2 linked regions of the Homo sapiens genome follow. The protein of the gene in region 1 interacts with the protein of each later gene in a biochemical or structural test. Each region holds a gene or a part of one and is shown on either strand. Other genes may lie near its edges.

What was found.
Region 2: the proteins of H2AC25 (region 1) and RNF168 form a complex in vitro, tested with the Homo sapiens proteins (one study listed by IntAct).

Annotation. Positions count from the first base shown.
Region 1 is NC_000001.11:228,456,715-228,462,065, reverse strand, and holds H2AC25 (histone H2A type 3), read left to right. Parts: upstream 1-4,192; 5' UTR 4,193-4,248; coding exon 4,249-4,641; 3' UTR 4,642-4,702; downstream 4,703-5,351. Other genes in the region: H2BC26 (histone H2B type 3-B), read right to left, coding at 3,556-3,936. UniProt on the Homo sapiens protein: Core component of nucleosome. Nucleosomes wrap and compact DNA into chromatin, limiting DNA accessibility to the cellular machineries which require DNA as a template.
Region 2 is NC_000003.12:196,486,531-196,493,817, reverse strand, and holds part of RNF168 (E3 ubiquitin-protein ligase RNF168), read left to right. Parts: intron 1-5,134; coding exon 5,135-5,211; intron 5,212-6,239; coding exon 6,240-6,419; intron 6,420-7,287. UniProt on the Homo sapiens protein: E3 ubiquitin-protein ligase required for accumulation of repair proteins to sites of DNA damage. Acts with UBE2N/UBC13 to amplify the RNF8-dependent histone ubiquitination.

The sequences.
Region 1 (5,351 bases):
ACCCATCTCAGATAGGTGAGATGAAGCTTAGTTTAAAAATTTGGCTTAGTTTAAGAATCTTGGCATGTCTCTCCAACCCAGAAAATGCTTCCATTTTGTTGAGTGAGTCCTAATTCCCTTAGTCTCTGTGGATTCTCACATATTTGATGTGCACTGCCTTCATTTATCATTAACATTTGTCTTTCTCTGTTGTAACACTATAATTAGAGAAATGGGTTCTGGACACGATTGCTCTGAATTTTCTCCATTATAAAATCTTAGTAGCAAGGATCCTGTTTTACCTTCTTTGCCTCTCCCTTAACAGATCCCTGTCCTAGGAGAGACGGACAAATCCCATTCATTCTGGGCCTGGGGGTGCTAATGTAGCAGGAAAAGACAGCCTGTTTCTACTTCAAGTTTGTGCCAGGGGAATCAGAAGGACTGAGACATGAATTGACTGACGTTTGACATTATCCATCACAAAATGCCTTCTTAGAGAATTACACTTGGAAAATGTCATGAAATGTTCATCTTGTGCCTTGATTTGATCTCTGGCACTAACCAGTGTTGTTGCCTTGTGCTAACACAATCATTCACTCTCTCTACTGGAGACTGGTTTCACTTTATTAAACCTATGTTTTAAGTTCATTAAGGTGGAGAACTATATGGGTCTGTGAGAGTAGTTTCACAGCTGCAAATGTTTAAGGTATTGACTTCCAATCCATGCTGGTAGGAGGCCGAGGGCTTGGATGTTCCAGTCATTGGGCACCTGTTTCATAGTGGAGAGGACTGGATTCAACAGCTTTTCATACAAATCCTATATTTCTTGACAGTACTAAGGGTGTTGACAAGTCCCACTTACTTTTGATGATGGATCACTGTTTAATATTTGGATTATAACTAGGGATGCAAAGAATTGAATAAAGTGCCTATGACAAAATTGTCATTCCTGTGTATTTTTTGTAAATTTTTTTTGGAGCATATATCAAAACAAAACAGAATGGAAATGACCCCGTGCACTGCTAGCATTGTAACCATATGGAAATGATCCCATGCTGTGCTAACACTGTAACAATATGAACACTGCATGTGTGCAGTCATTGAGGTGGAAAGGAGAGGAGAGAAGAGAGTGGGTGCACCATCCAGCTCATTAAGAGTCAGTTTCACTAAAAGTTTATCTGTTTGATAACATCAAATTATTTATGTTTTGAACAATTGTGTACTGTCGAGATGATTTTTCTTAACAGTGAGAGACTACCCAGAGGTATGCTTAAATTTCAATGTAGACTTTTTTGCAGAGAACAATAGACAAAACACTATTAAACATACAATAGATATATTATGGTAGGGTGAAATTGTAAGGCAAATGGAGAATGGAAATAGGCATTCAGGAGGAAAAAAATCATCTGAAACATCGCATTGACAAAGAAAAATTTGGTCATGTATTTTATGAATTGATTATACTATCATATTGATATTCCAAAAGGCACCTTGAGACTGATGTGAGAATTTTGATTTTTAAAAAGTTCCACGTTGGTATTTGTATCTTTGCAACTATTTTAATTGAAAATAAAAATATTTTAGATAGCTTTAAAACATGCGAGGTTCTCAAAGATTCTTGTAGAGGAATCACGCAGGAAAAAAAAGGTGGGGAATAGGGGACAAAGCCGTTTTGGTCGAGGATGTTCACGGTGACCTTTCTTTCCCCATCCCAGGCACGCGACGGGTTCCCTTTGGAGAAATGACTTGGGGGAAAAATATTTTTCATTGAATTTTATTTAAAAATTATTTCTCGGCCAGGAGAAGTGGCTCACGCCTGTAATCCCAGCACTTTGGGAGGCCGAGGAGGGTGGATCACGAGGTCAAGAGATCGAGACCATCCTGGCCAACATGGTGAAACCCCGTCTCTACTAAAAATTAAAAAAATTAGCTGGGCGTGGGTGGCGCACGCCTGTAGTCCCAGCTACTCGGGAGGCTGAGGCAGGAGAATCGCTTGAACCCGGGAGGCCGATGTTGCAGTGAGCAGAGATCGCGCCATTGCACTCCAGCCTGGGCGACAGAGCAAGACTCCGTCTCAAAAAAAAAAAAAATTATTTCTCATTTAACTTTATTGAATTTTTATTCCCTGCTGGAAATGGTGACACAAACGCTCAGTACTTCGAATTTTCACAACGGTTTGAGGAAGCAATTACTGGAAATCTTCTTTTTCTAAAGAAGAAAAGCCAAGTCATGAAAACGTAAACGATGCCCTTTCCAAAGTGAAAACTCTTCGTGCCAAAGAGCTTTCCTGCGCCAAAATGGCACTCCCCAAATAAATGCCGTGAATTTGGAGGGGGTAGGAAAGGAATTCTGCGTTGCTAACGCCTCGCAGAAAATAATGTGGCTAAAGAGGGAGGCAGCTACATTTGCTCAGAAAAAGGGAATTCTTTTCCTCCTAAATTAACCCCTTCCCCCACCCCCACTCCCATAAGGGTTAAAGTTACCGGCAGCTGGGGTCGCTTATTACATCCGGCTCCCCCGCGCAGGACGCTGCTTTGACGCCGTGCTTCGATTCGGTATCAAACATCCTGCCATCGCGGTATCCTGCCAGGAAAATATCCTCCCGGAATGTTCATTGCTTAAATCTAAACATGTCTGTCTGGTCCAGGCAGGGATGGAAAAGTCTTAAGCAAATGCAGAGCCAGGCACCACCGCCAGGGGAAAGTGACAACACCCATGGCCTCAGAGCCCGTGGTCTTGCGCCACGTCTGGCCTCGCCCATGGGGGGCGGGTAGGGTTGGGGAGGTTGGCACAGGGTCTTTTGGGGGGAGGTGACCCGCACTCCTCACCTGCACGGCGCACGCCAACCTCATTTGGACCCGGTCCTGAACCGGGCGCAAGCGCTCAACATCCAGGAATGCACCACTTGCTTATAAAAGACATTTGGGGCCAGGTGCGGTGGTTCACGCCTGTAATCCCAGCACTTTGGGAGGCAGAGGCGGATGGATCACCAGGTCAGAAGATCGAGACTATCCTGGCCAACATGGTGAAACCCCGTCTCTACTAAAAATACAAAAAATTAGCCAGGCGTGGTGGGGCGTGCCTGTAATCCCAGCTACTCGTAAGGCTGAGGCAGGAGAATCGCTTGAACCCAGGAGGCGGAGGTTGCAGTGAGCCCAGATTGCGCCACTGCACGCCAGCCTAGAGACAGAGCGAGACTTCTTCTAGAAAAAAAAAAAAAAAAAAAGAAAGAAAGAAAAAAAAAAGAAATCTCGTCGTGAGTTAATAGCTCTGCGCGGAGGGAGGGGATGGAGAGGGGGTCCTTGATCGCCTCCCAACATTACTGAGCTACATCACCTGAGCAGTTTCTACCCCGATTTCTGTAACGAGCAGTTTTTCTCGTTCTGTGCCGGCGCGCGCGCGCACACACACACACACACACACACACACACGGCTCAGATTCGGCCGCACCCGGCAACCGCTAGGGTGCATGGAGACACATTAGGTTACATAACCCTTCACCGTGTTCGAAACCCTTTCTTGATCGTGTGGGTGGCTCTGAAAAGAGCCTTTGGGTTCAGGACGCCGAGGAACGCCTCACTTGGAGCTGGTGTACTTGGTGACAGCCTTGGTGCCCTCGGACACGGCGTGCTTGGCCAGCTCGCCGGGCAGCAGCAGGCGAACGGCCGTCTGCACTTCGCGGGACGTGATGGTGGAGCGCTTGTTGTAGTGTGCCAGGCGGGAGGCCTCGCTGGCGATGCGCTCGAAGATGTCATTGACGAAGGAGTTCATGATGCCCATGGCCTTGGACGAGATGCCGGTGTCGGGGTGCACCTGCTTCAGCACCTTGTACACGTAGATAGAATAGCTCTCCTTGCGGCCGCGCTTGCGCTTCTTGCCGTCCTTCTTCTGTGCCTTGGTGACAGCCTTTTTAGAACCCTTCTTGGGCGCAGGAGCCGATTTGGACGGGTCTGGCATGATGGCTGAGTCTCTCCAAACAGAAACGCGCGGCGCTCGGAGTAACTCTATTTGTACGTTTTGTATTCAAATGAAGGCTCAGGATTTGCTCACTTCTGATTGGATCAAACGTTGTTCTACGTCATCGCTGGGAAAGGAATACGCAAATTAGGAGTGCCAGGTTCTTTTTCTGATTGGCTACCATAGCCATCCAATCGAACGCCGCGGTCTAGCCTACCTCTGTACCATACATAAGGGCTCGCTGGCCTTCACTGCCCTCTTGTTTTTAGTCTCGCTTTTCGGTTGCCGTTGTCTTTTTTCCTTGACTCGGAAATGTCCGGTCGTGGTAAGCAGGGTGGCAAGGCGCGCGCCAAGGCTAAGTCGCGCTCGTCGCGCGCGGGGCTGCAGTTCCCCGTGGGCCGCGTGCACCGGTTGCTCCGCAAGGGCAACTATTCGGAGCGCGTGGGCGCCGGCGCCCCGGTCTATCTGGCCGCGGTGCTCGAGTACTTGACTGCCGAGATCCTGGAGCTTGCCGGCAACGCGGCGCGCGACAACAAGAAGACGCGCATCATCCCGCGCCACCTGCAGCTGGCCATCCGCAACGACGAGGAGCTCAACAAGCTGCTGGGCCGCGTGACCATCGCGCAGGGTGGCGTCCTGCCCAACATCCAGGCCGTACTGCTGCCCAAGAAGACGGAGAGCCACCACAAGGCCAAGGGCAAGTGAGGCCGCCCGCCGCCCCCGGGGCCCCTTTGATGGACATAAAGGCTCTTTTCAGAGCCACCTACTATCTCGAGAAAAGAGCCGCACTGATCCTGCAGTTCTTTATAGGCCGGAGGCCTGATCACCCTAGGCTCATGAATGAGCGCAGTGGCCATGGGGAAGGGCGCAACGGGAACCGAGACCCTGGGGACTGATTGGGCTGCATACTTGCGAGGTGGGCAACGTGTTCTGTTAACAACAGGGAACCCTCGTCCACAGGTGGCCACCCCTTGCTCTTGAGTCCCACCCAAAACCTCTAGTAGGGTTTTAATAACGCTCACCGTAAAGGTGTCTTCATAATTACTAGTGACAAGTTCTCTTGACTCTAGCAAGGTTCCCGTGTGGTCATCAAGTACAGAATGCAATTTCTTAATGATTTATCTGATATTAAAAGTATTTATGATCTCTAAGTAGTTTGCACTTTAATTCTGAAGAGTAAGTCTATGGATTTCTATTTAAATTGCTAAGTTTTAACAATGTGAGCTCCACCAGTGTTAAGATTTAATTTATTTGGCTGGGAATTCTAAAGGTCATGAGGAAAGTTTCAGTACTTAAAAGGAACCAGATTAGTAGATGCTGAAAGGTATAAACCTTTTAAGAAGACTTAATTTGGAATAGGATAATTATTTAAAGGAATTTAGTTTGTTTAATTCGGGTTGGTCAAACATTAATCA
Region 2 (7,287 bases), on another chromosome or scaffold:
GGGCACGGTGGCTCACACCTGTAATCCTGGCACTTTGGAAGGCAGGTGGATCACCTGAGGTCAGGAGTTCAAGACCAGCCTGGCCAACATGGTAAAACCCCCGTCTCTACTAAAATTACAAAAAATTAGCTGGGCGTGGTGGGACATGCCTGTAATCCCAGCTACTCAGGAGGCTGAGGCAGGAGAATTGCTTGAACCCGGGAGGTGGAGGCTGCAGTTACCTGAGATTGCGCCATTGTACTCCAGCCTGGGCAACAAGAGCGAAACTCCGTCAAAGAAGAAAAAGAAATAGCAAATGGACTGGATGCAGTGGCTCACACCTGTTATCCCAGTGCTTCAGGAGGCTAGGGCAGGAGAATCGCTTCAGCCAAGGGGTTGGAGGCTGCAGTGAGCTATGATCCCGCCACTGAACTCCAGCCTGGGCAAGAGTGAGATCTTGTTTCCAAAAACAAAAGAAAAAGGCAAATGAAGACAATTTTAACTTGTGTCTGCAGTTGAATAACTCACTGATCTTAATTTAGATTCAGTTTATGTAGAAATAAGTAAACTTTAAAAATCTGTCATTCCACGGTTTAACAAAAGTTCAGCTCTCTGCTTGCTGTAGTTGGGCATCTTCTGTAAATCGCACGTGCCTTTCCTTTGCCTGTTGTGGTTTTTAATTGATCTGTGGAAGTTCTAGTTATATTCTGGACACTAATTCTCTGGTGATTTATGTATTTGCAAATAACTTCTAGTTTGTTTTTAACTTTGTGATGTCTTTCATCACATGGAAGTTTTAATTGTTTTGGAATTTATCTCATATGTTCTTCTTAGTCGTTTATAGTTTTGTTTTTTTCCATTTTTTAATCCACCTTGAATTCGAGTATTGTATGAGGTAGGCATCTTAACTCCCCCTGCCCTTGATTGCCACTTAATAGCCACACTACTTGGTAGTAATACAGCCACATTGATATACGTACTATTTCACTAATCATATGCTTATTTTCCAGAGCAATTTGGGGCTATTTATTTATTTTATTTATTTATTTATTTATTTATTTGAGATGGAGTCTCTCTCTGTCACCCAGGCTGGAGTGCAATGGTGCGATCTTGGCTCACTGCAACCTCTGCCTCTCGGGTTCAAGCGATTCTCCTGTCTCAGCCTCTTGAGTAGCTGGGATTACAGGCGTGCACCACCACACGTGGCTAATTTTTGTATTTTTAGTAGACATAGGGTTATTTGCCTTGTTGGCCAGGCTGGTTTTGAACTCCTGACCTCAAGTGATCCGCCTGCCTCCACCTCCCAAAGTGCCGGGATTACAGGCATGAGCCATGGCACCTTGCCTGGGCTTTTTATTTTTTAACTATCTCTTTATCAGTAGCTGTGTCAGTACCACACATGCTTAGTTTAATTCTGCTTAATGATATGTTTTGCTTTCTAGTATAATACATCTGTCTTATTATTGTTTTCCTAAATTAGCTACTTAAAAAAAATTTTTTTGAACAAAGATGGGGTCTTGCTATGTTGCCCAGGCTGGTCTTGATAGCCTGAGCTCAAGTGGTCCTCCTGCCTCAGCCTTCCAAAGTGCTGGGATTACAGGCATGAGCCACTGTGCCCAGCCTCTTAGCTACTATTTTATTGTATCTAATGTGTAAAGTGATTTACTTTTTTTCCAGTTTTATTGTAAAAGATACATAACATAAAATCCGCCATGTTAACCATTTTTAAATGGACAGTTGCGTGACATGAAGTACATTCATGTTTTTGTGCAGCCGTCACCACCATTCATCTCTGAACTTTCTCATCTTCCACGCTTGAAACTGCCCATTAAACAATAATTAATTCCCCATTCACCCCTCCCCTGGCTGCTGGCGACCTCCATTCTTTCTGCCTCTACGGGTTTAATTGCTCTAGGTGTCTCGTACGAGTGGAACCCCACACAGTGTCTGTCCTTTGGTGACTGGCTGTTTCACGCAGCGTAGTGTCTTGAAGGTCCATCGTGTTCTAGCACGTGTCCATTCCATTTCCTTTTTTGGCCGCATACTCCATTATGTGTGTGTATATATCTTAATGGATGACTATTATAAAAAAAAAACCAAGTGTTGGCTGTCCTCTGAAGCGGTATCTCCGTACTCAGGATTTGCACTTCCCTAATGACTAGTAATGTTGAACATGTGTTTTTGTTTGTTTGTGAGACGGAGCCTCCCTCTGTCGCCCAGGCTGGAGTGCAGTGGCGTGATCTCGGCTCACTGCAAGCTCCGCCTCCCGGGTTCAAGCAATTCTTCTGTGTCAGCCTCTCGAGTAGTTGGAATTACAGGTGCCTGCCACCACTCCCGGCTTTTTGTATTTTTTGGTAGAGACGGGTTTCACCGTGTTGGTCAGGCTGGTCTCAAACTCTTGACCTCAAGTGATCCACCTGCCTCGGCCTCCCAAAATGCTGTGATTACAGGCATGAGCCACTGTGCCCGGCCTACTGTCAGTTGTTTTATTTGGGTTTTTTGTTTGTTTCTTTGTTTGTTTGTTTTGAGACGGAATCTCCCTCTGTCGTCCAGGCTGGAGTGTAGTGGTGCAATGTCGGCTCACTGCAGCCTCCGCCTCCCGGGTTCAAGCTATTCTACTGCCTCAGCCTCCCGAGTAGCTGAGACTACAGGTGCGTGCCACCACGCCTGGCTAATTTTTGTATTCTTAGTATAGACGGGGTTTCACCATATTGGCCAGGCTGGTCTCGAACTCCTGACCTCATGATCCGCCTGCCTCAGCCTCCCAAAGTGCTGGGATTACAGGCGTGAGCCACCGCTCCCAGCTTACTTTAATTTTTTAAATGAAAATAGTTTGACTCTGCAGTTTCCCTGAAAAAAAGTCTCAGATACCTCCAGGGTTTCGTAGATTCTACTTTAAGACTTGCTGATCTAGGTCTCAGTTTAAGCCAGCTGATTATCCTTCTACTTTTTAAGGAGCCTTATATATGTCTCTCCTGTGTATACCATTGTATTGTCTTGAATAGATCCTCCTTAGTGACTAAAATAAATGAGAATTCAGCATACTGCATCCCTAATTGTTTTGGAGTTACATCACTGTTTTTTAGTCTCTCTGTTGCAGATTTTTCAAACTGCTGGCCTGCAGGCCATAGGAATCCTGTGTGCATGTTTTTTGTGACCCATCCAATGCCACTATTTAAGTTGGAAGATTTCATATTAACATCTTGATTGCTGGATTTTCTTTTTTTTTTTCTTTTTACTTGGATAAATTTATGGGGTGCAAGGGTAATTTTGTTACATGTATAGATTGCACAGTGGCGAAGTCAGGGCTCTTTAGGGTATCTGCTACCCAAATAATGTACATTGTACCCATGAAGTCATCTCTCACCATCCACCCCTGCCGCCTCTGGATTTTCTTGAGAAAGCAAAAAATATGGCACGGACAGGCCTGAGTTTCCTGGTAGTCGTAGTCAGCTGGAGTTGAGTAGCAGCTGCCCCTTGAAACAGACAGATGCGTTCTCTTTTTTGGATGTTCCCTTTTTACACTTTATAAAACAGTGTCTTGTTTTATAGAATAAAATTCTCATCAGATTTGTTGAGGATACATACCCACATTTAGGTTATTTTCTGACCCAGAATTATCTTTCAACTCCAGGGTGATGATTTTTTCTCTTTGTATAGCTTACTGTTTCCCTAGTCCTGCAGATGTATTTCAAATGTCTGACGATCCTTGGATTAGCTTTTAGGTTTGAGAATGAGGCCCAGGAGAAAAGCTCTGTGTATGTGGAAGGGTATTGGTGATGGGCAGACGTTGAGTTCAAGCCGATGGAAACCTGGCCTTTGTGCTTTGCCATCCCTAACTGCCCGATCGCAGAGGACTTTGCTCTGGGTCACCACCTATTACATTAGCTGCTCTGGCTCTCTCTAGATCTGTTTCTTTAAAGAAATATGCGTGTGTGCACCTGCACCCATATCCAGGGAGAAATGCCGGTAAGTCGAGGATTCTGATTTAACAGCTTATAAATCTCGAGTTCTGTTTTCAGTCCCACGGTTACTCACTCTGGACTCTATGAGCCTCTCTCTAGGCAAATAGGAGGCAGATTCCCTTCTAATTCTACCTCAGCTGTAGTCTTCCCTTTCAAGGATTTCTTTTCCTTCATTTCTGCTGTATCAATTATCTCTATTTCATTGCCTTCCCATTTTCTAGAAATTTGTTAAAAATTTTTTAACTGGAGCCGGGCACGGTGGCTCACGCCTGTAGTCCCAGCACTTTGGGAGGCTGAGGTGAGCAGATTGCCCGACATTAGGAGTTCGAAACCAGCCTGGCCAACATGGCAAAAACCGGTCTGTATTAAAAATACAAAAATTAGCTGGGCATGGTTGGGCATGCCTGTGATCCCAGCTACTCAGGACACTGAGGCACAATAATTGTTTGAACCCGGGAGGCGGAGGTTGCAGTGAGCTGAGATTGCACCACTGCACTCCAGCCTGGGTGACAGAGCAAGACTCTGTCTCAAAAAAAAAAAACATTTTTTTTTAATCAGTTAACCTCCTCTGCTAATTTCTGCTGTTGTAGGATTACAGTTTTTAAAAATTCCTTTACTGTTATTTTAATGGAGTTTAGAGGAAGGGTTAAGTATATGCATTCATATGCCATTTCAAACCCAAAACCCTAAACCTCTGGCCTCACAAAATGGAATTCCAGGCCGGGCGTGGTGGCTCACACCTGTAATCGCAGCACTTTGGGAGGCCAAGGCGGGTGGATCACTTGAGGTCAGGAGCTCGAGACCAGCCTGGCCAATGTGGTGAAACCCTGACTCTACCAAAAATATAAAAAATTAGCTGGGTGTGGTGGCGCATGCCTGTAATCCCAGCTGCTCAGGAGAAGGCTGAGGCAGGAGAATCGCTTGAACCTGGGAGGTGGAGGTTGCAGTGAGCCGAGACTGTGCCACTGCACTCCAGCCTGGGCAGCAGAGCAAGGCTCTGTCTCAAAAAAAATAAATAAAATAAATCTAAAATAAATAAATAAAATAAATGTTAAAAATGGAATTCCAAAAGGAGATATTGCTGCAGTTATTAATAGTTGTATATTTTAATTTTTCGTTTTAATGGAAGACCAAAGTTACCATAAAATTGTGTTGCCTATAATGTTATTTTCTTTTTTGATATGAAATAGCTGATGACTATCAGCCAGTTCGTCTGCTCAGTAAACCTGGGGAACTGAGAAGAGAATATGAAGAGGAAATAAGCAAGGTAGGTGCTAAATAGTTTTTTTTTTTGGAATATTTCTCTGCTGTGTTTTTAGTTTCAGATTTTAATTTAGTTTTTTGTGCTTATATAACTAGTATATCTTGAAATATGGATAATTTTTTTTTTTTGAGATGGAGTCTCACTCTGTCACCCAGGCTGGAGTGCAGTGGCGCAATCTCGGCTCACTGCAACCTCCACCTCCCGGGTTCATGCCATTCTCCTGCCTCAGCCTCCCGAGTAGCTGGGACTACAGGCGCCCGCCACTACGCCTGGCTAATTTTTTTGTATTTTTAGTAGAGATGGGGTTTCACAGTGTTCACCAGGATGGTCTCGATCTCCTGACCTTGTGATCCGCCCGCCTCGGCCTCCCAAAGTGCTGGGATTATAGGTGTGAGCCACTGTGCCTGGCCAAAATATGGATAATTTTAATGTACTTTATAAGGGCTTTGTTTTTTGCTGTAATTTACTTCTACATAATTAATGCTCTTATGTGATAGTGTTCCCTAAGCATTTACATATGAAGAAAATTTTTTAATTCTTCTTTTTCCTAATTTAATCCATACCAGGATATATTTTTATTTCCCCAAAGTTTTGAGCTTAAAGTAAAAGGGTGGTAGAGTGTGAGTTTAGATGAGGAAAGGTTAAAGGGCTAGCTGTGAAGTTCCTAAATAGGAAAAGTACCTAAAAAGCAGTGTTTATAGTGAAGCATTATGTTTTAATTACATATGAAGTTATACATAAATAGAGATTTTTCTCTTTTTTTGTTAGTCTTCAAAATTTTGTGTATAATTTTCACTTGTAATACATCTCAGGCTAGGTGTGGAGGCTCACACCTATAATTTCAGTGCTTTGGGAGGCTGAGATGGGACAGCTATCTTGCAGGAATCTACTTCTCCAGATTTGTACTTCATTTGAGATCATTTAAATTTCTGCCAATTTGTTCTTTTTCTACTTTTCTATTCTTGTTATGAAATATTGCAAGTATACCAAAACGTTCAGAGAAGGATTGCTCTTTATTAATCACTTTTAAGGTGGCGGCAGAGCGACGGGCCAGCGAGGAAGAAGAAAACAAAGCCAGTGAAGAATACATACAGAGGTTGTTGGCAGAGGAGGAAGAAGAGGAAAAAAGACAGGCAGAAAAAAGGCGAAGAGCGATGGAAGAACAACTGAAAAGTGATGAGGAACTGGCAAGAAAGCTAAGCATTGATATTGTAAGTTTTAGGAGGGAACGCTAAGGTATGGTCATCCCTTGGTATGCGCTGCTGCAGAACCCGCTCATGGGAAGAGTCAGCTCCTTGTATTTCCAGGTTCTGCATCCCACAAATATTGTCTTTTCCACCCCAGGCTGGTTGGATTTGAGTGTTTGGAACCTGCTGATACGGAAAGCTAACTATTAACATTCCGATTGCTTTGACTGTGGTTTTCAAAGAACAGAAGAGATGGCGTTGCCATAATTAGAAGCTATTGATAACATTTTTGCTTTACTTAAAGTAAAATTGTTTTGCATATTGTTACATATTTGCTCTAATCCAGGTTTTTGGGGTTTTTTGTTTTTTGAGACAGGTCTTACTCTGTCATGCAGGTTGGAGTGCAGTGGCACAATCACGACTCACTGCAGCCTCGACGGCCGGGCTCCGGTGATCCTTCCAACCTCCCGAGTAGCTGGGACTACAGGCTGGCACTACCATGCCTGGCTACTTTTTTGTGGAGACAGGGCTTTGCCATGTTTCCTGAACTGGTGTCGAGCTCCTGGGCTCAAGCCGTCCATCTGCCTCGGCGTCTCAAAGTGCTGGGTTTGTGGCGTGAGCCACCGCAAGTTGTTTAACAACTTTTTTATATGTAGGAAAGCTATTCAGTGAAGAATGAAAGCTTCCTTTTTCCTTCTTCCACCTCTCCACTCCCGTTCCTTTTCCATTTATATCAGTCTCTATCCCCAAAGGTAACCACTATTAACAGTTTCTTACAACTTTTTTCTTGCCAGGGTGCGATGGCTCGGGCCTGTAATCCCAGTACATTGGGAAGCTGAGGCGAGAGGATCGCTTGAGCCCAGGAGTTTGAGACCAGCCTGGGCAACAAAGT